Linked DNA regions of Homo sapiens. The protein of the gene in region 1 purifies or fractionates together with the protein of each later gene. This does not show direct contact. Each region holds a gene or a part of one and is shown in the gene's direction. Other genes may lie near its edges.

Region 1 (7,743 bases):
AAAGATTAGTGCTTCTATAGATACATAAAATTAGCAAAAAAAAAAAAAAAGTCACAACTACATACTAGAAAAACAGCTTCAGCAGATTTGGTTTCTTTGTTAGATTAAAAACATAAACATTAATAAGAAAAGCACTTACTGCTGGGTGCAGAGGCTCATACCTATAATCCCAACTGCTCAGAAGGCCCACTTGAGCCTAGGCGTTCAAGGCTGCAGTCAGCCATGATCATGCCACTGCACTCCACCTTGGGTGACAAAGTAAGACCTTGCCTCTAAAACTTTTTTGGAAAGCAATTATTTCCCCCATAAATAAATCTGCAAAGGATAAATAAACAACTCACTAAAAAAGTACACCTACTAAAATAAAAGAGGAAATCATTGAGCCTTTAAATAATTGAACCTTAATTGTAAACTAAAATTATAAATAATTATTTTCACATACTATAGTAAAAAAGTTTCTCCTAATAATTTCTAATGCTGACAGAGATATACTGGAATTATTATTTTTGTGCACTGTTAATATCATTAAAAAATACACAATGCAACACATACTATCCGCACCCCCATATACACACACAAATATATTGTTCTCTTTAATCCCAGGTCTGAGAATCTAACCTAAAGAAATAATCAAAGTATAAAACAAGCTATATACATGCCAATATCCATCTCAACATTGTCATACAGAATTAAGGAAGAAACGAAAATATCCAACAATAGAACAGTTAAATAAGTTATAGTAACTTTGTATACAATGCAATTATATGATGTGTTATACTTATATAATATATTCTAATTACATATTAGAAGATCATATATTATTATTCAGCTGTTGAAGTAATCACAATGCTTATAATAAAAATTAAGATAAAAATATTATGCACGTTGTGCACATGTACCCTAAAACTTAAAGTATAATAAAAAAAAGTACTGGTCATGATAATAATGAAAACAAACAAAAAATATTATGTATAATTACATATTCACTTTATTTAACTACAAAAATCTTGAAAATAAAGGAAATGGACTCTATTAAAACATATTGAAATATCAATAGTAATAGGATTAAAAAATATAAGTGTAGCTGAAAATTAAAAGTTGACTGTCTTCTAATCTTGATTTTCAAAGGTTAGCATGAAGAGTGGCAAGGACTTCTTTAACAATAAATATAGCCAAAAATAGCAGGGTCTTAAGGAAACTTATTTTACTGTGTCACTATATAAAAATAATTACTTTTTATAATGAGTTTTGATAGTAGGTGCTTATTATTCCTAGTAGTCAGACTGAGTTTCAGTGAGTCACTTTTATTTTCATTTTTATCAAGTTAATATTTATTATAGTGAAATTCACAGTTAAGTATATAGTTTGATGAGTTTGATAAATCAAAATACAGAATATATCCAACACTCCAGAGAGTACCTTTGGATCCCCTTTCAGGTAACACCTACTTTCAGTAGACAACCTTAATTTTATTTCTTTGTAATAAATTCATTTTGCCTGTTATAAAATTTCATATGAATTGAATTACACAGCTTGTACTCATTTATATCTTCTGTTGAATTGACCATTTTGTTGTTATGTAATGTCCCTCCTTATCTCTAGCAAGGCTTCTTGACTTGAAATTAATTTTGTCTAATATTTATTTAGCCACATAGTATATTGTTTTGTTCATCTACTTCCAATCTGTCAACGGTTTTATATTTAAAGTGCATTTTTAATAGAAAATGTATTGTTCTTATTTTTCACCTAGTGTGAAAATCTGTCTTTTATTAAAGTGTTTTGTTTATTTACATTTAATGTAATTTGTGACACTGATGGATTTAGGACTACCATTTTGTCATTTGTTTTCTATTTGTCCTATCTATATTTTATACACCTGTTTATCCATTCCTGCCTTCTTTTTCTTTAATAACATTTTTATTTTATCTAAATTGTTCTATTGGATTTTAAACTATAACTTTTCATATTATTATTGTATTTGTTGTCCTACGGATTATAATATATATCATTAACTTATTATATTATAATTAGGTATAGTATTATACTACTCATATAAAATATAAGAACTTTGCAACATTATGATTTTATCCCCATAGCTTTTGTGCTAAAACAGTAATATATTTTACAACTCTGTTCACTATAAATCCTACAGTTCCATGTTATTATTTTTGCTTTAATAAGTTTTATGTCTTTTGAAGAAATTAAGAAAAGAAAAATGGTATATTTTATATTTATTCACATATAGTAATAGCTCCTTTTTCCACAAGGGATATACGTTCCAAGACTCCAAGTGGATGCCTGAAACCACAATATACTGAACCTTATTAAACACTATATATACTATGTTTTTTCTATACATACCTACAATAAAATTTAATTTATAAGTTGGCACAGTAAGAGATTGACAACAATAACTAATAATAAAATATAATTATAATAATATACTGTAATAAAAATTATGTGAATGTGATCTCTGTCTCTCTCTCTATCTCTCTCTGTCAAAATGTTTTATCATACATTTTACTCACTTGTTTGGGCCATGGTTGACCACAGGTAACTGAAACTGTGGAAAGATAAACTGCAGATAAGGAAAGACTACCGTATTTACCATTTCTGGTACTCTTCATTTCTTCTTACATATTGGAGTCTCCATCTGGTTACATTCCCTTCAGCTTGAATAACACTCCTTAGCATTTTCCTTATTGCAGGTGTGCTAGTAACAAGTTCTTTCAACTCTTATTTATCTGAAAGTGTCTTTATATTTGAAGAATATTTTCACTGGACATAGAATTCAGGATTGACAGATTTGTTTCCAGAACTTTAAAGGTGATATTCTATTATTTTCTAGTTTCCATTGTTTCTGATACAGTGATCATTTGTTTTTTTATTCCCTTGTATGCAGTATTTCTTTTTTCCCCTACTTTTTCCTTTCATGATTCTCTATCTTTGTTTTTAGTAGTTTGACTATGATGCACTTAGGTCTAATTTTTTTTTTTTTTGGTCTTTATTTTCTTTGGTGTTTGCTGGGCTTTTTGGATATCTAAGTTGATGTCATTTCACCAAACTTGAGAAAAGTTGAGCCATCGTTTTTTCACATATTTTGTCTGCCACATTTTTTTCTCTCATAGTTTTCTGAGACTCCAATTAAACATTCGCTTAGATGGTTTAATTATCCTAAAGGTCACTAAAGTTCTATTTTTATTTCAATATTTTTGTCTTTGTTTTATGGATTGGATAATTTCTATTGCTTTGTCTTCAAATTTACTGGCTTTTTCTTCTGCCATCTCTAATCTGCTATTAGGTTCATCCAGTGAATCTTTTCATTTCAGATATTGCATTTTTCAGTTCCAGAATTTCCACTTAATTTTTAGTAGTTTAATTTCTCTGCCAAGTTTTACCATTTATTCATTCATTATGACTGTATCTTTTAACATTTTTGAGCATATTTATGATAGATACTTTCCAGTCTTTGCTAATTACAACATCTGGATCATCTTCGAGTCATTTTCCATTCACTGCTTTTTCTCTTCATTAGGAGCCACATTTTCCTGTTTTTCTTCACGTCTATTAATTTTTATAATATATTGGATATGATGGATGATATGTTTTATAGATCATAGGTTCCATTGGCTTCTTGTGAAGACTGTTTTTGTTCTAGCAGGTTGTAAATTATTAGCCAATAACCTAGCACTTATTAGAGGTTGGCTTTACACCAGTTAGGGGGGGTCTGTTTCAAATTTACCTTTAGTTTTAGCATGAATCTCTTAATCTGTAGGTATTGTTTTACACCTAATCATGGCCCTTTTAGGCCTTCAATGGAAAGCTTGGATTATTTGGTTTTTCCTTTTATGTTTGGTTGACACATAGTGGTTGCACATATTTATGGGGGTACAGAGTGTTGATACATATGTACAGTATGCAATGATCAGGGTAATTAGGGTATTTTTTACCTCAAGCATTTATTACTTTGTGGTGGGAACATTCAAAATCCTTTCTTCTAGATTTCTGAACATATACAATAAATTATTATTAATTATATTTATCCTACAGTGTTATAGAACACTAGAACTTATTCCTCCTATCTAGCTGTGTAATTTTGTATACTTTAACCAACATCTTCCTATCCTCCTCTCCCCTATACTCCTCCTAGCTTCTGATCACCATAATTCTTCTTCTATAAGATGAATTTTTTAGCTCCAACATATAAGAGAGAACATGTAGTATGTATCTTTCTGCACCTGGCTTATTTCACATAATGTCCTCCAAGTCTCATCCATGTTGTTGAAAATGACAAGATTTCATTCTTCTTATGTCTGGATGGTATTCCATTGTGGATATATGCCACATTTTCTTTGTTCATTCATCTGTTGATAGACATTTAGGTTGATTACATATCTTGGTGATTGTGAAAAATACTGCATGGGGGTTCAGATATATCTTCAATATACTGATTTTTTTTTTCCTTTCAGTAAAAACCCAGTAGTGAGATTGCTGGATCATATGTTAGATCTATTTTAGTTTTTTGAGAAACTTTCATACTGTTTTTTATAATGGCTCTACTAATTTACAGTCCCACCAACAGTGCACAAGGGTTCCTGTTTCTCTGCATCCTCACCAGCATTTGTAATTTGTTCCTTTTTAATAAAAGCTGTTCTAACTGGAGTGAGATGATAGCTCATTGTGGTTTTGACCTGCGTTTCCCTGATGATTAGTGATGTTGAGCATTTTTAATATATGTGTTGGTCATTTGTATGACTTCTTTTCAGCAATATCTGTTCAAATCCTTTGCCCATTTTTAATTGGATTACTTGCAGTGTTTTGCTGTTATTTGAGTTCCCTGTACATTCTGGGTATGAATCTCTTGTCAGATGAATAGTTTGCAAATATTTTCTTCCATTCTGCAAGTTGTCTCTTCATTCTGTTGATTTTTTTCTTTGCTGTGCAGAAGCTTTTTAGTTTGATATAGTCTCATTTATCTATTTTTGTTTTTGTTGCCTGTGCTTTTGTGGTCTCACTCATAAAATATTTGCCTAGACCTGTGTCCTGAAGCATTTGTCTTATGTTTTCTTCTAGTAGTTTTATAGTTGCAGGTATTAATACTACATGTAAATCTTTAATCCATTTTTAGTTGATTTTTTATAGGTGGTGAGAGATAGAAGTCTAAGGAAAACTTAAACTGTTTATCAATCCTTTATATCTTAGAAGGACACAGATCTGACGCACTGCTTCAGTGAGCAGCATCTGAAAGCTCTTCTCATATCTTTCAACCTTCAAACTGTGGCTCTCTTGATTTGCTCTTTAGAATCTCTTCTGCAACTCAAAGATCAGCCAAGGATTTAAAAGGAGTTTGTTTACTGATTCACTTCTTCTTTTATAGATATTTCCCCCTCAATTTCCAGCCACTCTGACAACTCCCAAGCTGTCCTCTGACACCTCAGTGAGATTGTGGCTTTCTGCTTTCCTTATAGTTATCTCAAGCTGCACAGACTGGGGAGTGCCCTAAGGGGGAATACCAAGTGAAAACAACACTCACACAGTACATTTTCCTTCTTTCAAAGATTGAAACTGCTGTAGTGTCTGCCTGACACTCTCTATTGCTTTCAATTGTTATTTTTGTATTTTGTTCAGACTTTATAGTTGTTATCTATAGGAGGGTTAGTCTTATATAAGAAACTATGCTATCAGTAAAACTGGAACCCAAGTAGGATGCTTTATTAGTTGTCCATGCTTCCCTAATTAAGGAGCTGCCATTGATATGGTTTGTAGAATCCTGTTATAGCAGAACATATCCAATATGGAATAAGCAACACACTCCTGGAAGATTTTAGAAAACAAAGAAACCCTTCCTAAGACATACTTATGGGTGCAATATTAATGGTTTCTTCCCCATAGGGTTCTAATGCTAATTGCACATACTCAGTGATGGAAAGCTCCAGAAATTCCCTAATTATATTTCTGCTCCAAAGCCATATAATTTGAGGAGCTGATATTCCCAGGAACTGGTACACCCATCACTTTGTTGGGCCAATGAATTAAGAAAGATTGTGTGACCTGGTTATGGTCAGAAAACCTGTGCCTCTGAGCCGGCACCTCAGAGTGGCCTTTGTCAGACAGGAGAGGCAAAGATGGTTCCAGCCTGGGGCATCTTGGAGATTCTAGGGCACAGCTGAGTTCTACAAGTCTCAATCGAACAGTTCTGTCTCTAGGAATATGTTAGGGGCTGGAGATATGATGACAAAACTTTAAAATGCCACTAGGGGTCTAAGAAATGGTTGAGTCTGTCACTGCCAGAATATGAACTCAGCTTAATAATAAGTTAGAAAAGATGCAAATAAGTTAAACTGATAATATTCTTCTTGGATATATACTGGCTTTTTCCTCATCAGTGTGCTTTAGCAAAGGCTAGACTATCAAAATCTTTTCAGGTTTCCTTTTATAGAAACAAAGACACTTTCAGTTTTTATCATATTAAAGTATAATGCATTTCAATCATCAAAAGCCAATTTTCTGAGAGAAACTATATAATGGAGGATGTATTTTAGAGTCAGGCTAGCCTGAGTTTTAATCCTAGCTCTACCATTTACTAGCTGTGTGATTTTGGACATGATATTTAAGCTTTCTGATCTTCAGTTTCTGAATCTAAAACGTGTGACTATTAATAGGAATCCAACTGGGAATGCTGTGCGGTTGAAATTAGATAATGTATTTTAAATGCCTGGCAAAGTGTCTGACACAGAGTACACACTTAAGGAATGGAGGGATATTATCATCATCACGGTTTTAAAAACGATATTAACATTATCTATGAGTTAGCTGGTTGAGAAAAGTAAGAGTGCAGGGAATCAAAAGAATAGGATAGAAGGTTTTTCTTCTTTGTACAACACTATATTGTTTTGATACCTTATATCAAAAACTAATTATGCATATCTGGCCCTTCCCTGCCTATTTATCCTATTTCATCACCACAGTTTTCTTCCCTAACTGAAAATTCTTACCCAAAGCTTTTTTTCAGTTTCTTAACTACACAAAACTCTCCTCTGTGCGTTTGGCCACCTTTTCATGCAGTCTCCAGGTCTCGGTTTAAATATCACCTCACAGAACAGTCTACCCTGGACATTGACTAAGTAGCTAGTCTTTTATTAATCTCACACAACCACCTAGTGTATTTCCTTTTGTCTTAGTCAGTTCAGGCTGCTGTAACAGAATACCATAGACTGGGTGGCTTAAACAACGACAATTCATTCCCCACAATTTTGGAGGCTGAGAAATTCATTTCTCACATTCCAAGATCCAGACCCTGGCAGATCTGGTATCTCCAAGGACACACTTCCTGTTTGCAGATGGCCATTTCTCATTGTATCACATGGTAGATAGAGAGAGAGGACGCATGTGTTCTCATCTTTTTGTAAGGGCACTGATCCCATTCATGAGTGCTCTACCCTCATTCACTAATTACCTCTCAAAGGCTTTACCTCCTAATACCATCACACTGGGGATTAGGATTTCAACATGTGGGTTTTAAGAGGATGCAAACATTTAGTTCATAGCACCTTTCTAGCACTTTTCACAATTTTTGATTATATGTTTGCATGGTACTTACTAGTTTTCTCCCTAGATAAACTGCAAACCCTGCTCTGTGAGGTTAGTGACCATGTCTGCTTTATTTATTAATATACTTAGTGCTTACATAGACTTAGTACATATTTTGCAAATAAATGAAAGAACAAATGTGATACAGAGGAT
Region 2 (7,743 bases), on another chromosome or scaffold:
CCAGGATTCCCGGAGGGGGTGCTGGCGGGCCGCGGCTCAGAGGCGCGTTTGCGTCAGCCCCGGGTTCCAGCAGAGTCACTGCCCGCCCGGGGGCAGCTCGTCCGCCGCGGGGCCTCAGTTTCCCCGTCTGCGCAATGGGGGCGGGGCGGGGCCGCCAGGTGGGGCGGGGCCGGGGGCGGGGCGGGGCGGGGCTCGGGGCCCCCACGGCGCGGGCTCGGGCGGCAGTGGCGGCGGCGCGTGCGCGCCCCGGATCCGGCGGTGAGTGCGGAGCGAGCGGGGCGCGCCGGGGTCGGGGTCCGGTCGCCGCCCGGGCTGGGTCGAGGGCGGGACCCGCGGAGCCCCCGGGGGCGGGGAACCTGGCCGCGCGCGGAGCTGGGGGCGGCTCCGGGACGAGGCAGCGCGACCGCTGGGGCCGGGGGCGGAGCGGGCCGGGGCGCCCGCGGCTGGGTCGGGCCGGGCCGGGAGAATGGGCCCAGCGGCCCCGGGAACCGGCTCCCCCTGCCGGCGGCGGGCGGGCGGGCGGCGCGGCGGGGAGGGCCGGGGTCGCCGCGGCCCCTCGTCCGACCCGGCGCGACTCAGCGCCTCGGGGCCCAGCCTGTGCCGCCTGCTCCGCCCCCCGCGAACCCCGGAGCCAGCAGCGCGGCTGGGAGGGGGCGGCGGGCAGGTCCGTCTCGCTCCGCCTCTGCGCCCTCCCTCGTGGGCCCCGCGGTCCCCAGCCCTGCTCCCGCCGCGAGGGGTCCGCCAGTGCCTGCGGCGCAGCCAGGCCCCTCCCTCTGCGGACCCGGCCTCTCGCGGGTGGGGGCTGCGGGGCTGCTGCCGGGCAGGTGGGGAGGGAGCCCGTGGGCGCTGGGGGCACGGGGACCGGACTGCTGGTCCACCTGGCGCCGCCGCCCCCTCCCCGCCCGGCACCCCTGGGTCGAGGCCGTGGCCCCCCCCGGGGAAATGGGGCTTGCAGCACCGGCTCGGAGAGCACCACGGGCTTCCTCTGGCCTCGGGAAAACATGACTTTCAAAAATTGAGTCTCCACTTAGCACCGCTTCCTGTCCAGGCGACTCTCAGGAATTGTGGGGGGGAGCTGTGCCAATATGTGTGGGGGGCAATGAGGTCTGGGAGATTCGCCTACCCCCAGGCCCGCCCTGGCATCCCCCTGCCCACATCAAGCCGCCGGGCCGCTGCCCTACCTCTTCCTTCCCGGGTCCCACTCCCCAATGTCCCCCGACTTCGAGTCTTGCCTTGAGGTCGCACCAGACCCAGCCCCTAACAGTGTCCTTCATCCAGGGCCCATCCCCAGAGTTAATCTCCAGCCAGCTCTGCCCCCTCGACAAACTCCTGCCCAAAAACTGCTGTGATGCCCCCCCTGCCCCCAAGCTAAGTCCCCACCCCTCAGCTGCCCAGGGCAGCCTCTGCCTAGTTGGCAGCCTCTGCCCTGCCCTCCTCTCTCCAGCGCACAGAGGACTGGAGGCCCAGGAAGGACCCCCAGCCACCCTCCCCGCTGGGACCGGGTGATGCCTTGGCAGTGCCCGTGGGAAGCAGGTGTGGGATCGTGCTCCACACCCAGTGGGGCTGGCCAGCAGCGACTGAGGACAGTGTGACTATTTATAGGACTGGCTGTCAGAGCTGAGGAGGGGCCTCAGAGACCCTATTCTAGTGTGTGAGGAAACTGAATCCCAGAGAAGGGACAGCCTTACCCCAGCCTCTGCCCCGACCCGAAGCCTGGCCTTTCCCTGCGGAGGGCCCTGCAGTGCCTCGGAAGGAACCCACCCAGCCTTTGGGAAGCACCCGTGAGAGGCCCTGGGTGGGACCCTGCAGCATGGCAGGGGCTCGCCAGGTCTCCAGACCCCTGGCTGCGCATAGGACAGAATCCCCATCCCCGGCATTGCCACAGACCATTAATTCTGGGCTCTCATGCTCTCAGGAAGCCTCACCCGGGCCCCTGGCTCCTGCTGCACAGCCAGGAGGGGGTTGGATTCCGGTTCCGGTGACACTGTCGGGGGCTGCTCCTCACCCCCAGGTGTGCACCTGGCACAGCCACTGTCCCAGGATCCCTGGAGGCTGATTGCACACATATCCCAGCCTGGGAAGGACCCCCTCTAAAATGAAGGCCGCCCCTCTGGTGGTCTTAGAATGTGTGCACCCTCCGCACGGTTCCTGCTGGCTTGCAGCTGCTGGCCCACCTGCTGGGGCCGGTTCCACACTCAGATGAGAAATCAAATTCCAGAAGGGCTGAGGCCGGCAGGTCCCTGGTGGGGCTGGATCCCAGCTCTGCCCACGAACACCCCGTTTGCATAGACTGGGGTGCAAACTCACCCCTGCCCTGCTGTGAGGAGGGCCCTGGAACCAGGCAGGACAGGAGAAACGGCCACCCGTAGCTGGAGCCATCCTTCCCGGAGCCTCGGGCAGATGCCCAGCAGGATCCACTCGATTCCTGCACCAAGAGCTCTGGACAGCGTCACCCCCCCTGTGCCCCCAGGCTGTGGCCCCAGCTGTTTGTGCCTGGCGAGGGTCTGGCTAGCTGGAAGAGGGGGCCAGCGGAGGAGAGAGTGGGCGCCACCGTGGGGCTGTCCCACCGGTGGAGGCTCCAGCGGAGATGAGCTGGGCAGGCCTCGCGGAGCAAGTGCAAACTGCACCCGCGTCCTGGGGGCATCTGCGGGGAGACTTAGGGGTCATGCTTTGTGCCCCAGGCCACCCAGAGGAGAAGGCCACCCCGCCTGGAGGCACAGGCCATGAGGGGCTCTCAGGAGGTGCTGCTGATGTGGCTTCTGGTGTTGGCAGTGGGCGGCACAGAGCACGCCTACCGGCCCGGGTGAGCCAAGCCCTAGCCTGGGAGTGCTGGGGTGGGGGGACCGGGAGCCCTCAGCACCTCCTAGAGGCGGCCCTCAGCACCTGTCGGGGACTCCCTGGGGGCTCCTGCTGAGGGTCCTGCCCCGGCCACATGTTCCCATCATTCTTGGGTCCTGCTCTGGGACTCCTGGGCTGACCCCCTCTCCACCCCCGCAGCCGTAGGGTGTGTGCTGTCCGGGCTCACGGGGACCCTGTCTCCGAGTCGTTCGTGCAGCGTGTGTACCAGCCCTTCCTCACCACCTGCGACGGGCACCGGGCCTGCAGCACCTACCGGTGAGTGCCCCACCACACCGAGCTCACCCAGCCCCAGCCTCCCAAGTCGGCCACACATCAGCATGTCAGGGGCGAGGCGGGGGTGAATCCTGGGACCCAAGATGGGAAACTGAGGCCAGAGCCATGAGAGGGCTGCCTGAGATGGGCGACCCAGGGCGGCCGGAGCCAAGGGGTTCCACGATCACCTCCAGTGTCCTAATCCTTGCTCTTGCCCCGACACGTCTCAAAGGACCGCACCTCTAAGAGCATCCCCATGTTTAGAGGGGTCACCCATCCTGTCTGCACCCCTCCACTTCCGGGGGACTAACCCCTCCCTACCCTGGCATCCCTGGCTGCAAGTTCCCATATACACAGAATGGTGCCTGACTCCCCTGGTCCCACTCCACTGGGCACCCCCCTCCACATGACGGCCCCCAGTGGGCACAGATGAGACCCTGAAATGTCCTGTATGCCCACACAAGGGGCACACACCCCTAAGTCTCAGAGTCCTCCTTCCTGGGTGTGGGAGCTCCACCCCCTGCTGGGGGAGGGGCCTGGGAATTCAGACTTCTGGAGGTTTAAGAAGGGCTCCGATGCCCAGGGCCCACACTCTGCCGTGACTCGCCGTAGGCCGGGCACACCCTCTCCTCTGGGCCTGGATGCCCCCACAGTAGGAGACCAGATAGGTGGGGGCACACACAGGCCTGGCCACTGCCTCTGCTCCATGCGGAGTGTGGCTGGGCCTTCCTGCTGTGGCTTGAGTCCCGGCCAGCACCGGAAGGCCCAGGCAGGGAAACGGCTGTGCAGTGACCCCTCAGTGCCATCCCTTGAGGAGAAGACCCTTGGGGGCATGCTGGGGTGACCCTGTGCACTCTGAGAGGGGACTCTAGATGCCCAGCAGGTGACTAAGGGGGAGTAGGATGCCCCTCTGAGCTGTCCCACCCACCCCACAGAACCATCTATAGGACCGCCTACCGCCGCAGCCCTGGGCTGGCCCCTGCCAGGCCTCGCTACGCGTGCTGCCCCGGCTGGAAGAGGACCAGCGGGCTTCCTGGGGCCTGTGGAGCAGGTGAGGGCTATGTCCCTCGGCGCCCGGTGTTAGGAGGGCGACTGTTCCCCAATCTTCCAGCAACGCTCCTGCTGCTTTTCTTGAACCCCGAGCAAAGCACCACCTTGCCGCAGAGCACCCACTCCCTAGCAGCTGCCCCCACAGGGTGCTGGGGACCCAACTGAGCTGGTGACCAGCCTCCCCCGCCCACAGCAATATGCCAGCCGCCATGCCGGAACGGAGGGAGCTGTGTCCAGCCTGGCCGCTGCCGCTGCCCTGCAGGATGGCGGGGTGACACTTGCCAGTCAGGTGAGGCTGGCTCTACCCTGGGGGGCCCTGGAAGGGTCCTGGGCACCTCCTTGCATGTCCTGGGGTTACTGCTGGCCCATGAGTGGGTGGTTGTGAAGGGAGCTGTGTGGGCAGGACCCCTCCCGCAGGCATGGCCGCCTGACACCCCGTTTCCTGCAGATGTGGATGAATGCAGTGCTAGGAGGGGCGGCTGTCCCCAGCGCTGCGTCAACACCGCCGGCAGTTACTGGTGCCAGTGTTGGGAGGGGCACAGCCTGTCTGCAGACGGTACACTCTGTGTGCCCAAGGGAGGGCCCCCCAGGGTGGCCCCCAACCCGACAGGTAAACAGCCCTGGCTGTGCCTGGCCTGGGGAGGCGGGCAGGCAGTGGACATTGCCGTGTGGCTGTTAGGCATGGTGGGGGGCACTGGAATCTGGGCGGAAGGCGGTGGGGACTCCCTCTCCAGGGAGGGAGGATGGGGAGGGAGGATAGGTGGGTTCCCGAGAACTGGGGGCAGGTTGCCCGGAGCCTCATATCAGCCAAGAAGGCAGAAGTGCCCCGTCCCGGGGTCCTGTCTGCATCCAGCGCAGCATTCTGGAAGACGCCACGCCTCCGCTGGCGACGGGACATTATTACTTTTGGTACGCGCTGTGACACTTCAAACTCGTACCGTGAGTAATAATGCGCCGTCCACGGCACCGCATCGAAAACGCCGCTGAGACCTCAGCCTTGACCTCCCTCAGCGTGGCCGGGACCCTGAGCCTCTGCGCAGAGCCACCCGCCCCGACGTACTTAGGCGGCATAGCCCTGAGACCTCTGGCCAGCGCCAGGCAGGCAGCGGGGGCGGCAGAGGCCTGGGCCTGAGTCTTCTGGCTCTGCCTCTCCCTGGGGACAGGAGGGAGCCTGGGGGTGTGGGTGGGGAGCCGGCCGGCCGTGACCCAGCGCCTGGCTCTGCCCGCAGGAGTGGACAGTGCAATGAAGGAAGAAGTGCAGAGGCTGCAGTCCAGGGTGGACCTGCTGGAGGAGGTGAGGCATTGGTGGGGGGGGGGGGGGGCAGGCAGTCCAGGGTGGACCTGCTGGAGGAGGTGAGGTGTGGAGGGGCAGGCAGTCCAGGGTGAACCTGCTGGAGGAGGTGAGGCATCGGGGGGGTAGGCAGGCAGTCCAGGGTGGACCTGCTGGAGGAGGTGAGGCGTCGGGGGGGCAGGCAGTCCAGGGTGGACCTGCTGGAGGAGGTGAGGCGTCGGGGGGGCAGGCAGTCCAGGGTGGACCTGCTGGAGGAGATGAGGCGTCGGGGGGGGAGGCAGGCAGTCCAGGGTGGACCTGCTGGAGGAGGTGAGACGTCGGCAGGGGGCAGGTCTTCACAACAGCAGAGGCCCAGGCCCGGGTACAGGCTCCGTAGTCTCCTGGGACATGGTCCCGACCCACGGATGGCTGGGGGTGGTCTGAAAAGGTCCTGGCCCTGGGGAGGTGGCTTCCTCGCTGCTGACTGCCGAGGGGGCCCTGGCCTGGATCCATGCTGGGCAGAAGCAGCTGGACACTGACCAGGACCCCCCAGGGCCGGAGGAACCAAGCTTGACAGCCCCCCAGACAATACACAGAGCCTGGACCCAGACGAGACCTCCCCACCCCCCCATCTTTGTCCCCACCAGGACAAAGAGCTCTTGCCAGTCTTCCCACTGGCCAGTGGTCCAGCTGTCCCCCTAGTTCTCCTGCCAGGGACCCCAAGGCTGGGACCACCCCGCCAGCCTGATGCCCCAGGCACCCACTCTGCGGCAAGCTTTTCTGCCACGGCAGCCCCCTCTAGTGGACACTTGGAGCCCTGCCGCGGAGGCGGGGGCTGGAGGCTTGTGGAGCCCTTCCCAGGGGTCCTCCCTAGACCCCGGTGGAGCAGAGAGGGCGGGGGCCGGCCCAGGGTCACTGCCCTTCTGCACCCACAGAAGCTGCAGCTGGTGCTGGCCCCACTGCACAGCCTGGCCTCGCAGGCACTGGAGCATGGGCTCCCGGACCCCGGCAGCCTCCTGGTGCACTCCTTCCAGCAGCTCGGCCGCATCGACTCCCTGAGCGAGCAGATTTCCTTCCTGGAGGAGCAGCTGGGGTCCTGTGAGTGCCCCCACCCTCCAGAGCCCTCCTCCCGGGTCTGGGCCCAGTGGGCCTAGAGGGGCTACCCAGGCTTGGGGGTCGGGGGCGACCAAAGGCCAAGGGGCCAGTCAGATCTAGCTGGGCGGGGAGGCTGTGGGGAGCAGTGATCTCTGACCTTCGCCTCATCCAACCCTAGGCTCCTGCAAGAAAGACTCGTGACTGCCCAGCGCCCCAGGCTGGACTGAGCCCCTCACGCCGCCCTGCAGCCCCCATGCCCCTGCCCAACATGCTGGGGGTCCAGAAACCACCTCGGGGTGACTGAGCGGAAGGCCAGGCAGGGCCTTCCTCCTCTTCCTCCTCCCCTTCCTCGGGAGGCTCCCCAGACCCTGGCATGGGATGGGCTGGGATCTTCTCTGTGAATCCACCCCTGGCTACCCCCACCCTGGCTACCCCAACGGCATCCCAAGGCCAGGTGGGCCCTCAGCTGAGGGAAGGTACGAGCTCCCTGCTGGAGCCTGGGACCCATGGCACAGGCCAGGCAGCCCGGAGGCTGGGTGGGGCCTCAGTGGGGGCTGCTGCCTGACCCCCAGCACAATAAAAATGAAACGTGAGCTGCTGTGTCAGTGGATGGACTGGGGGCCTGGGAGGAGGGCGCTCACCTCCTGGCCACCCCTCCCAGACCCACTGCTGGGTGCCAGCTGGCAAAGGGGGCCTGGTGGAGCGGGCAGTCGTGGGGTGGGGAGGGGGTCCAAGGCAGAGGGGGTGGGCAGGTGGTTTCTGTGAGGCCACAGAGAGCTTTGTCCTGGGGACATGTTGGCCCCAACCAGAGGCCAAAGAGCAAATCTCTGGCCTCCTTCCCAGTAGCCTGAGGATCCCGGCACACTTGCCCGTTAGGCGACACCCCCACCCATCGATGGAAGTAGTATAGGGTGATGTGGGTCCACTCCTGGATAGGGAACACGGGTGGGTGGCGGTGCCTGCACCCTGGGCCTCTAGGCAGGGCAGCTGGGAAGACACAGCGTCGCCTCCACCGCCCTGGTCACCTGCCCGCCCTGTGAGTGACCACAGCTCCCCAGCCACTTCCAAGAGTGTGTTTATAAAAAAACAGCAACGGAGTACAGTGCTGACCCCACAGAGTCTTCCAGGCCAGCAGGAGCAGCAGGCCCCGATTCCCGGCTCCCTGTGGCCCAGGGTGCGTGAGTCTGGGACTCCTGGCCCTCCAGGCCCCTCCTCTC
Region 3 (7,743 bases), on another chromosome or scaffold:
TTTTGTAATAGATAATCATGCACATGGTGTAAAATTCAAAAGAAACAAAAGGAAGTGTGTAGTGGGAGTGTCCTGCTATTACCCCTCACCTGCCCTCCCTAATGGCATGATACTACGTTAGAGCCAGTCACAGCTCATTGCAGTCTCAACCTCCTGGGCTCAAGTGATCCTCCCACCTTAGCCCCACAAGTAGCTGGGATCACAGGCATGCACCACAGGCTGATTTTTTTATTTTGTAGAGATGGGGTTTCACCATGTTGCCCAGGCTGGTCTTGAACTCCTGGACTGAAGCAATCCTCTCACCTCGGCCTCCCAAAGTGCTGTGATTATAGGCGTGAGCCACTACGAGGGCCATGATGCAATTTTTTATTGTGGTAAAATATGTATAACATAATATTCCTCATTTTAACTTTTTTTTTTTTTTTTTTTTTTTTTTTTTTTTTTTTTGAGACAGAGTCTTGTTCTGTCACCCAGGCTGGAGTGCAGTGGTGGGATCTCGGCTTACTGCATTCTCCGCCTCCGGGGTTCAAGCGATTTTCCTGCCTCAGTCTCCTGAGTAGCTGGGACTACAGGCATGTGCCACCATGCCTGGCTAATTTTTTTGTGTTTTTAGAAGAGACAGGGTTTCACCATGTTGGTCAGGCTGGTCACGAACTCCTGATCTCAAATGATTCTCCTGCCTTGGCCTCCTGAAGTGCTGGGATTACAGGCGTGAGCCACCATGCCTGGCCCATTTTAACTATTTGTAAATGGTATAATTCAGTAGAATTAATTACGTTCACAGTGCTGTGTACCCATCACTGTTATCTGTACTCAAAACTGTTCATCACTGCCAACATAAACTCCATATTTTTAAAGAATGCCTCCCCCTTCCTCCTCCCTCTACCCCCTATTCAACTGTCTGTCTATAAATTTGACTAGGTACTGCATGTAAGTGGAATCACAGTATTTGTCCATTTGCAACTGGCTTATTTCACTAAGTAAAATGTTTTCATGGTCTGTCCATTTTGTAGCATATATTAACTTTATTCCTTTTTATGGCTGAGTAATATTCCATTGTGTGTGTATACCACATTTTGTTTATCCATTCATTTGTAGATGGACCCTTGGGTTGTTTCTACTTCGTGGCTATTGTGAATACTGCTACTATGAGCATTGTTGTACAGATAAATGTTTGAGACCGTGCTTTCGATTCTTTTGGAAATATACCTAGGAGTAGAATTGCTGGCTCATATGGTAGTTCTATGTTTCACGTTTTTAGGAACTGTCAGACTTTTCCATAGCAGCTACACCATTTTACATTCCTACCAGCAATGCTCAAGGGTTCCAGTTTTTCCAAATCTTCATCAGCACTTGTTGTGGTGCTATTTATTGTAGCCATCCTAGTGACTGTGTTGTGAAGTGGCATCTCCATTGTGGTTCTGATTTGCATTTCTCTAATAATTACTGATGTTGACCTTATTTTCATGTGCTTATTGGTCAATTGTATGTCTTCCTGGGGAAAATACTATTCATATCCTTTGCCCATTTTTTTAAATTGGGTTTTTTGTTGTTATAGGAGTTCTTTATATATTCTGGATATTAATCCCTTATCTGTTATAGGTTGAGTATTCCTTATCCATAATGCTAGGATCCAGAAATGTTTTGGATTTTGGATTTTGGATTTTGCAATATTTGCATTTATACTTACCAGTTAAGCATTCGCCTACTTATTTATTTACTTAATAGAGTTGCCCAGGCTGGTCTTGAACTCCTGGGTTCAAGCGATCCTCCACCTTGGCCCCCCAGAGTGCTGGGATTACAGGTGTGAGCCACCGTGGCCAGCCCCAGTTAAGCATTCTAAATCCAAAAACTTGAAATTCGGTATGCTTCAATAAGCATTTTCTTTGAGCATCATGCCAGTGCTCAAAAAGTTTTGGAGTTTGGAGCATTTCAGATTTCAGATTTTTGGATTTGATATGCACAACCTGTAAATGATTTGCAAATATTTTCTCCCGTTCTGTGGGTTGCCTTTTTCACTCTTGATGGTTTCCTTTGATGCACGAAATTTTAAAATTTTGAAGTCTAGTTTATCTAAATTTTTTTCTTTTGTTTCCCATGCTTTTGGTGTTATATCCAGGAAAGCATTGCCAAATCCAGTGTCATGAAGACTTTCCCCAATGTTTTCTTCTAAGATTGTTATAGAATCCTCAATTCAGGCTTGTATCCCCAATGTGGAGCTGAGAGCAAACACTGAGTCACCGGTACTTGGAGATAGAGAAAGGTTTATTCGATTTGGCTAAAGCAAGAAGATGGGAGGGCAAGATCTCTCGAATCCATCTAAACAAAAGGAAGCATTGGGTAGATTTTATGTGACTAGATCTAGTAAGGGAGGGGGAGTTTCACAGAATCCAGTGGAAAAGTCTGTGTTTCTTTGGTCTCAGGTAACGCCTTGAGCAACCAGATGTCTGGTTGTTAGCAGCTGGTCACAGTGTCCTTAAAGCCATTCATTTCTTCTGGCAACATTTTTCTTTACATGACGCTGAAGTTATCTTCTCTTGATTGACAAAGAAGCAGTACATCAACAGTTTATCATTATATTGTGGCAACAAGGGATATTCAGCAAAAAGTGAGTGGTTAACATGCGCAAGCAAGCAAGGGCCTGATACAAATTATTTATTTCAGTCATTAAAAAATGTTAGGGTGCTGAAATCTAGTTTTCCCAGCACCATTTCTTGAAAAGACCATTCTTTCCCCTGTTGAATGGTCTTGACACCTTTGTTGAAAATAATGGCTATATATATGGAGGATTGCATTCTGGGCTCTCTTGTGGACATTTATCTGTATGTCTCCTTGTCCTAATAGCACACTGTTTTAATTCCGGTAGCTTTGTAGCTTGAGTGGCTATTCAGACTGTTTTACAGCTCTTCTCAGGGGAGGAGTATGTCTGATTGCCTTTGCACTAGGGCTTCCCTAAGCCAAACAGCTGCTTATGGGGAGGAAGGAATAGAAATTTATAGAATTATAAAAGTTTTTTTGGCGTTAAGTCTGAGGTGTGTCAGTTCAGTATACTATAGATTGGATTTGGGAGTGGTGGCATAAGAAGGACTTTTCTTTGAATTTCAAGATACTTATTTGTATTTAGTTTAGTCATCTTTCATTAATATATTAGCAGTGGCAAATCCATATGGGTCTGCAGCAGCCTCATTTCTTGCCTCTTCAAAAGAAAGAATTCCACCTAGGGGCATAAGGCAGAGTAAGAGACTAAGATAAGTTTTAGAGCCAGAGTGGAAATTTGTTAAAAAATTTTACAGCAGAAATGAAGTAAAATACATTTGGAAGAGGGCCAAGTGGGTGACTTGAGAGAGTCAAATGCATGGTTTGATCTTGGACTTGGGTTGTTACACGTTGGCATGCTTCCCAGGGGTTGCGTCTCTTCTCTGATTCTTCCCTTGGGGTGGGCAGTCCGCATGTGCAGTGGCCCACTAGTGCCTGGGAGGGGCTGCGTGTGCAGTGTGTTTACTGGAGTTGCGCAGATGCTCACTTGAGGCGTTTTTCCCTTAACAGAATGTTCCTAGAAGGTCATAGATCAGTTAAGCTCCACCATTTTTCCTCTTAGTGCACATGCTTGAGCCCAGTCATCCAACTCCTCAGATCTTATCAGGAAGCTGCTGATCACCAGTTTCAGGTGTTTCTATCTGTTGGGAGACTACCTTTCCCTGGCACTGGCTGCAACCAATGATTAGTTTAGAGAGAAAGTTTAACAACTGCCTGATCATCACCTGATGGTTGCTTGACATTCCTGGTGGGGTGGGGTCCTCTGCTGCCCTGCTCATGTCTGACTACCTACTGTAACAAATGCATTTATTTTCTCAACATTTGTGTTTGTATTAATTATTCAGTGGTGTCTGTAGACAAAAGTTTGCTAAGATGTTATCTTTGAAGTTTATGTAATATTATCCTTTTAATGTTGAGACTCTTTAAGAAGGATTTTGGTAACCATAGACAGTAATCTGTTGATTGCTAAACTTTATTGACTTAGTTTTTTTTTGAGACAAAGTCTTGCACTGCCACCCAGCCTGGTGTGCAGTGGCATGATCTCGGCTCAGTGCAGCCTCCGCCGACCACACTCAAGCGATTCTCCTGCCTTAGCCTCTCTAGTAGCTGGGATTGCAGGCGCCCGCCACAATGTCTGGCTAATTTGAATATTTTTAGTAGAGATGGGGTTTCACCATGTTGGACAGGCTGGTCTTGAACTCCTGACCTCAAGTGATCACCCGCCTCAGTCTCCCAAAGTGCTGGGATTACAGGCGTGAGCTACTGCACCTGAGCTTATTGATGTTTTTAGTAAAGTTTCATCTTATCTGTGTGCCAGAAGATAACTTTTAAATGTGATGTTGGAATTTTACAGTGATCATAAAGCTTGCTTTCTACCATTCTTTTGGTCCCTGTTAAAAGCCTTCACTTAAAAGTGCATGGTAGCTGGGTGCAGTGGCTCACACCTGTAATCCTAGCAACTCGGGAGGCTGAGGTGGGAAGATCAGTTGAGGCCAGGAGTTTGAGACCCATCTGGGCAACATAGTGAGACCCCCCCATCTCTATAAAAATAAGAAAAATTAGCTGGGCATGGTGGCAGGTGCCTGTCATCCCAGCTACTGGGAAGGCTGAGGCAAAAGGATCACTTGAGCCATGATCATGGTACTGTACTCCAGCCTGGGTGACAGAGCAAGACCCTGTCCCTAAGAAAAAAAAAAAAATAATAATAATAGTGGTCCAAATGGGATTAACAGAAAATTATTCTTGAGAGAAGAAATTGCATGCCTTTCTTTTTTTTTTTTTTTTTTTTTTTTTTGAGAGAGGGTCTTACTCTGTCACCCAGGCTGGAGTGCAGTGGTGCGATCTTTGCTCACTGTACCTTCTGCCCCACTGGCTCAAGCGATCCACCCGCCTCAGCCTCCGGAATAGCTGGGGCCACAGGCGTGCACCACCACACCTGGCTTTTTTTTTTTTTTAGTTTTTAGTAGAGACGGTGTCTTGCCATGTAGCCCAGGCTGGTCTTGAACTCCTGAGCTCAAGCAGTCTGCCTGCCTCGGCTTCCCAAAGTTTTGGGATTACAGGTGTAAGCCATCACGCCCAACTCATTTACAGTTAAAGGGTCTAATGCTTGCAGCATGCTTTGTGTGACAAAACTTCTTGTCTGAAAATTCTAACATTTTCTTTTTTTTTTGTGATCAGTTTGCTTAAGAGAGATTACTTATATAACAAAGGTAGGCTTTTGGAGGTAGACTTTTTTTTCATTAAAGGGAGTAATTAATTATAGCTCACTAATTTGTTAGTGATTCCCAGCTATATATGTGGTATTTTGCCATGTACTTGTAGGAACTTGTGGCCCAGAGATGTATCCAAGCTTATATACCTAGTGAATGATAGAGGAGTTTCTGTGTGATTCCAGAGTCTGTGTGTCTTTTCCACTCTACCATGCTTTCTTTTTGTATATAATTTAAATTGTTATTATTTTTTTTTTAGGTTAAAAGGACAACTCTGGTGGATAGCAGAACATCTGTTACTGATGTGAAGTTTGCTCCCAAGCACATGGGTCTTATGTTAGCAACCTGTTCCGCAGATGGTATAGTAAGAATCTATGAGGCACCAGATGTTATGAATCTCAGCCAGTGGTCTTTGCAGCATGAGATCTCATGTAAGCTAAGCTGTAGTTGTATTTCTTGGAACCCTTCAAGGTAAGTTTACATATTAAACCTCTGATAACATCCTAGTAAAATAAACTAGTAACTTTTAAGCTAACAATTTGATAATTTATTCTCTCAAAGGTGCTTCTTCTCAAGATATATAGAGTATATGTTCTCCATTTTTCACCCAGGCATGTCATTTGTCCCTGTTTTCACTCAACAGAGGAAGCCGGCATTGTAAATATTTTCATGTGAACCTTTTGGATGTTTTCTATGCATATGCAAATAACTATTTAATGTTGTCATAAACACATATATGCAAACACGCCCAGATATTCACTAGCACAAGTAGACACAGAACACCAGATATTGAAACCCATACATTTGATTGATTGATTGATTGGTTGATTGAGACAGAGTATTGCTCATTTGCCCAGGCTGGAGTGCAGTGGCACCATCTTGGCTCACAGTAGCCTCCACCTCCTGAGTTCAAGCAATTCTCCTGCCTCAGCCTCCCAAGTAGCTAGAATTACAGGCATGCGCCACCACGTCTGCCTAATTTTTGCATTTTTAGTAGACATGGGGTTTTACCATGTTGGCCAGACTGGTCTTGAACTTCTAACCTCAGGTGATCTGCCTGCCTCGGCCTCCAAGAGTGCTGGGATGACAGGCGTGAGCTGCTGCACCCAGCCAGAAACCCTTACATTTTCCTTCCTTGCAATTAGCTTTTTTCACTTAAAGATACATTGTGGGCATTTTTCCATATATTAATATATCTAGTCTTACCTCATTTCTTTTTAACTGCTGCATAGAGCATGACTATATGAATATTACCATAGTTGCTTTTTATTAAACTGTTTTTAAACAATTATAAGAATCACTTGGTGAAGAAAAAAATTGAAATAATCCATAAGAATACAAAAAGAAAGGTAAAGTTCCTTTACCCCCTAAAAACAAATGCTGTCAATAGTTCTGTTTTCAGACTTTAATTCTGGTAGTCACTAGTATATTTTTAAAGGATTTACTTATACCTTTGGTTCTTGCTATGTTATCTTTTTTTTAAAAATTTTTATTCTGCTATTTTTCCACATGTTCTTGCTATGTTATCATTAAAGAATATCCAAACTGATAGAAAAGATGAATAGAGCACATTTATACAACTTCCACATCCCAAGGTATGACTAGATAGATATCTTATTTGTGGTGATGTTGATAGTTGTTGGAGTTATACTGGTAATTATTATAATTTCAAATAATATATATATCTCTACACATATTTATCAATTTTTAGACTATATATTTACTCCCGTCTCTTTTTTTTTTTTTTTTTTTTGAGATGGAGTCTTGCCCTATTGCCCAGGCTGGAGTGTGGTGGCATGATCTCGGCTCACTGCAAGCTCCGCCTCCTGGGTTCAAACGATTCTCCTGTGTCAGCCTCCCAAGTAGCTGGAATCACAGGTGCCCGCCACCACATCTGGCTAGTTTTTTTTGTATTTTTAGTAGAGACGGGGTTTGTCCATGTTAGCCAGGCTGGTCTTGAACTCCTGACCTCAGGTGATCTGCCCGCCTTGGCCTCCCAAAGTTCTAGGATTACAGGTGTGAGCCACTGTGCCTGGCTTCCCCTCTCTTAAAAAAGAGGGAATTAGTTTATTGCTTCCCCCTCACATTGCCCCTTCCATTTCCTCATTCTTTTTTTTTTTTTTTTTTTTTTGAGGTGGAGTCTCGCTCTGTCACCCAGGCTGGAGTGCAGTGGCGCAATCTAGGCTCACTGCAAGCTCCGCCTCCTGGTTCAAGCGATTCCCCTGCCTCAGCCACCTGAGTAGCTGGGACTACAGGTGCCTGCCACCACGCCTGGCTAATTTTTTGTATTTTTAGTAGAGACGGGGTTTCACCGTATTAGCCAGGATGGTCTCGATCTCCTGACCTTGTGATCCGCCCACCTCGGCCTCCCAAACTGCTGGGATTACAGGCATGAGCCACCTCGCCCAGTCCATTTCCTAATTCTTATATTGCTTGTATACTGGCAAGATTTATAATATTTACATTCTGTAAACATTTAACACATGTGTAAGTATTT

The links. The genes of interacting proteins can lie anywhere in the genome.
Region 2: the proteins of NELL2 (region 1) and EGFL7 purify together in Homo sapiens (affinity purification with mass spectrometry; 2 studies listed by BioGRID and IntAct, with this or other methods). This does not show direct contact.
Region 3: the proteins of NELL2 (region 1) and SEH1L purify together in Homo sapiens (affinity purification with mass spectrometry; 2 studies listed by BioGRID and IntAct, with this or other methods). This does not show direct contact.

The regions. Positions count from the first base shown.
Region 1 is NC_000012.12:44,509,209-44,516,951, reverse strand, and holds part of NELL2 (protein kinase C-binding protein NELL2 isoform b precursor), read left to right. Parts: intron 1-7,743. UniProt on the Homo sapiens protein: Plays multiple roles in neural tissues, regulates neuronal proliferation, survival, differentiation, polarization, as well as axon guidance and synaptic functions.
Region 2 is NC_000009.12:136,665,560-136,673,302, forward strand, and holds the end of EGFL7 (epidermal growth factor-like protein 7 precursor), read left to right. Parts: intron 1-208; exon of another isoform or gene 209-258; intron 259-2,681; 5' UTR 2,682-2,723; coding exon 2,724-2,803; intron 2,804-2,997; coding exon 2,998-3,114; intron 3,115-4,046; coding exon 4,047-4,162; intron 4,163-4,354; coding exon 4,355-4,450; intron 4,451-4,609; coding exon 4,610-4,771; intron 4,772-5,042; exon of another isoform or gene 5,043-5,127; intron 5,128-5,390; coding exon 5,391-5,455; intron 5,456-6,366; coding exon 6,367-6,529; intron 6,530-6,704; coding exon 6,705-6,727; 3' UTR 6,728-7,119; downstream 7,120-7,743. UniProt on the Homo sapiens protein: Regulates vascular tubulogenesis in vivo. Inhibits platelet-derived growth factor (PDGF)-BB-induced smooth muscle cell migration and promotes endothelial cell adhesion to the extracellular matrix and angiogenesis.
Region 3 is NC_000018.10:12,957,655-12,965,397, forward strand, and holds part of SEH1L (nucleoporin SEH1), read left to right. Parts: intron 1-5,505; coding exon 5,506-5,717; intron 5,718-6,781; coding exon of another isoform or gene 6,782-6,841; intron 6,842-7,743. UniProt on the Homo sapiens protein: Component of the Nup107-160 subcomplex of the nuclear pore complex (NPC). The Nup107-160 subcomplex is required for the assembly of a functional NPC.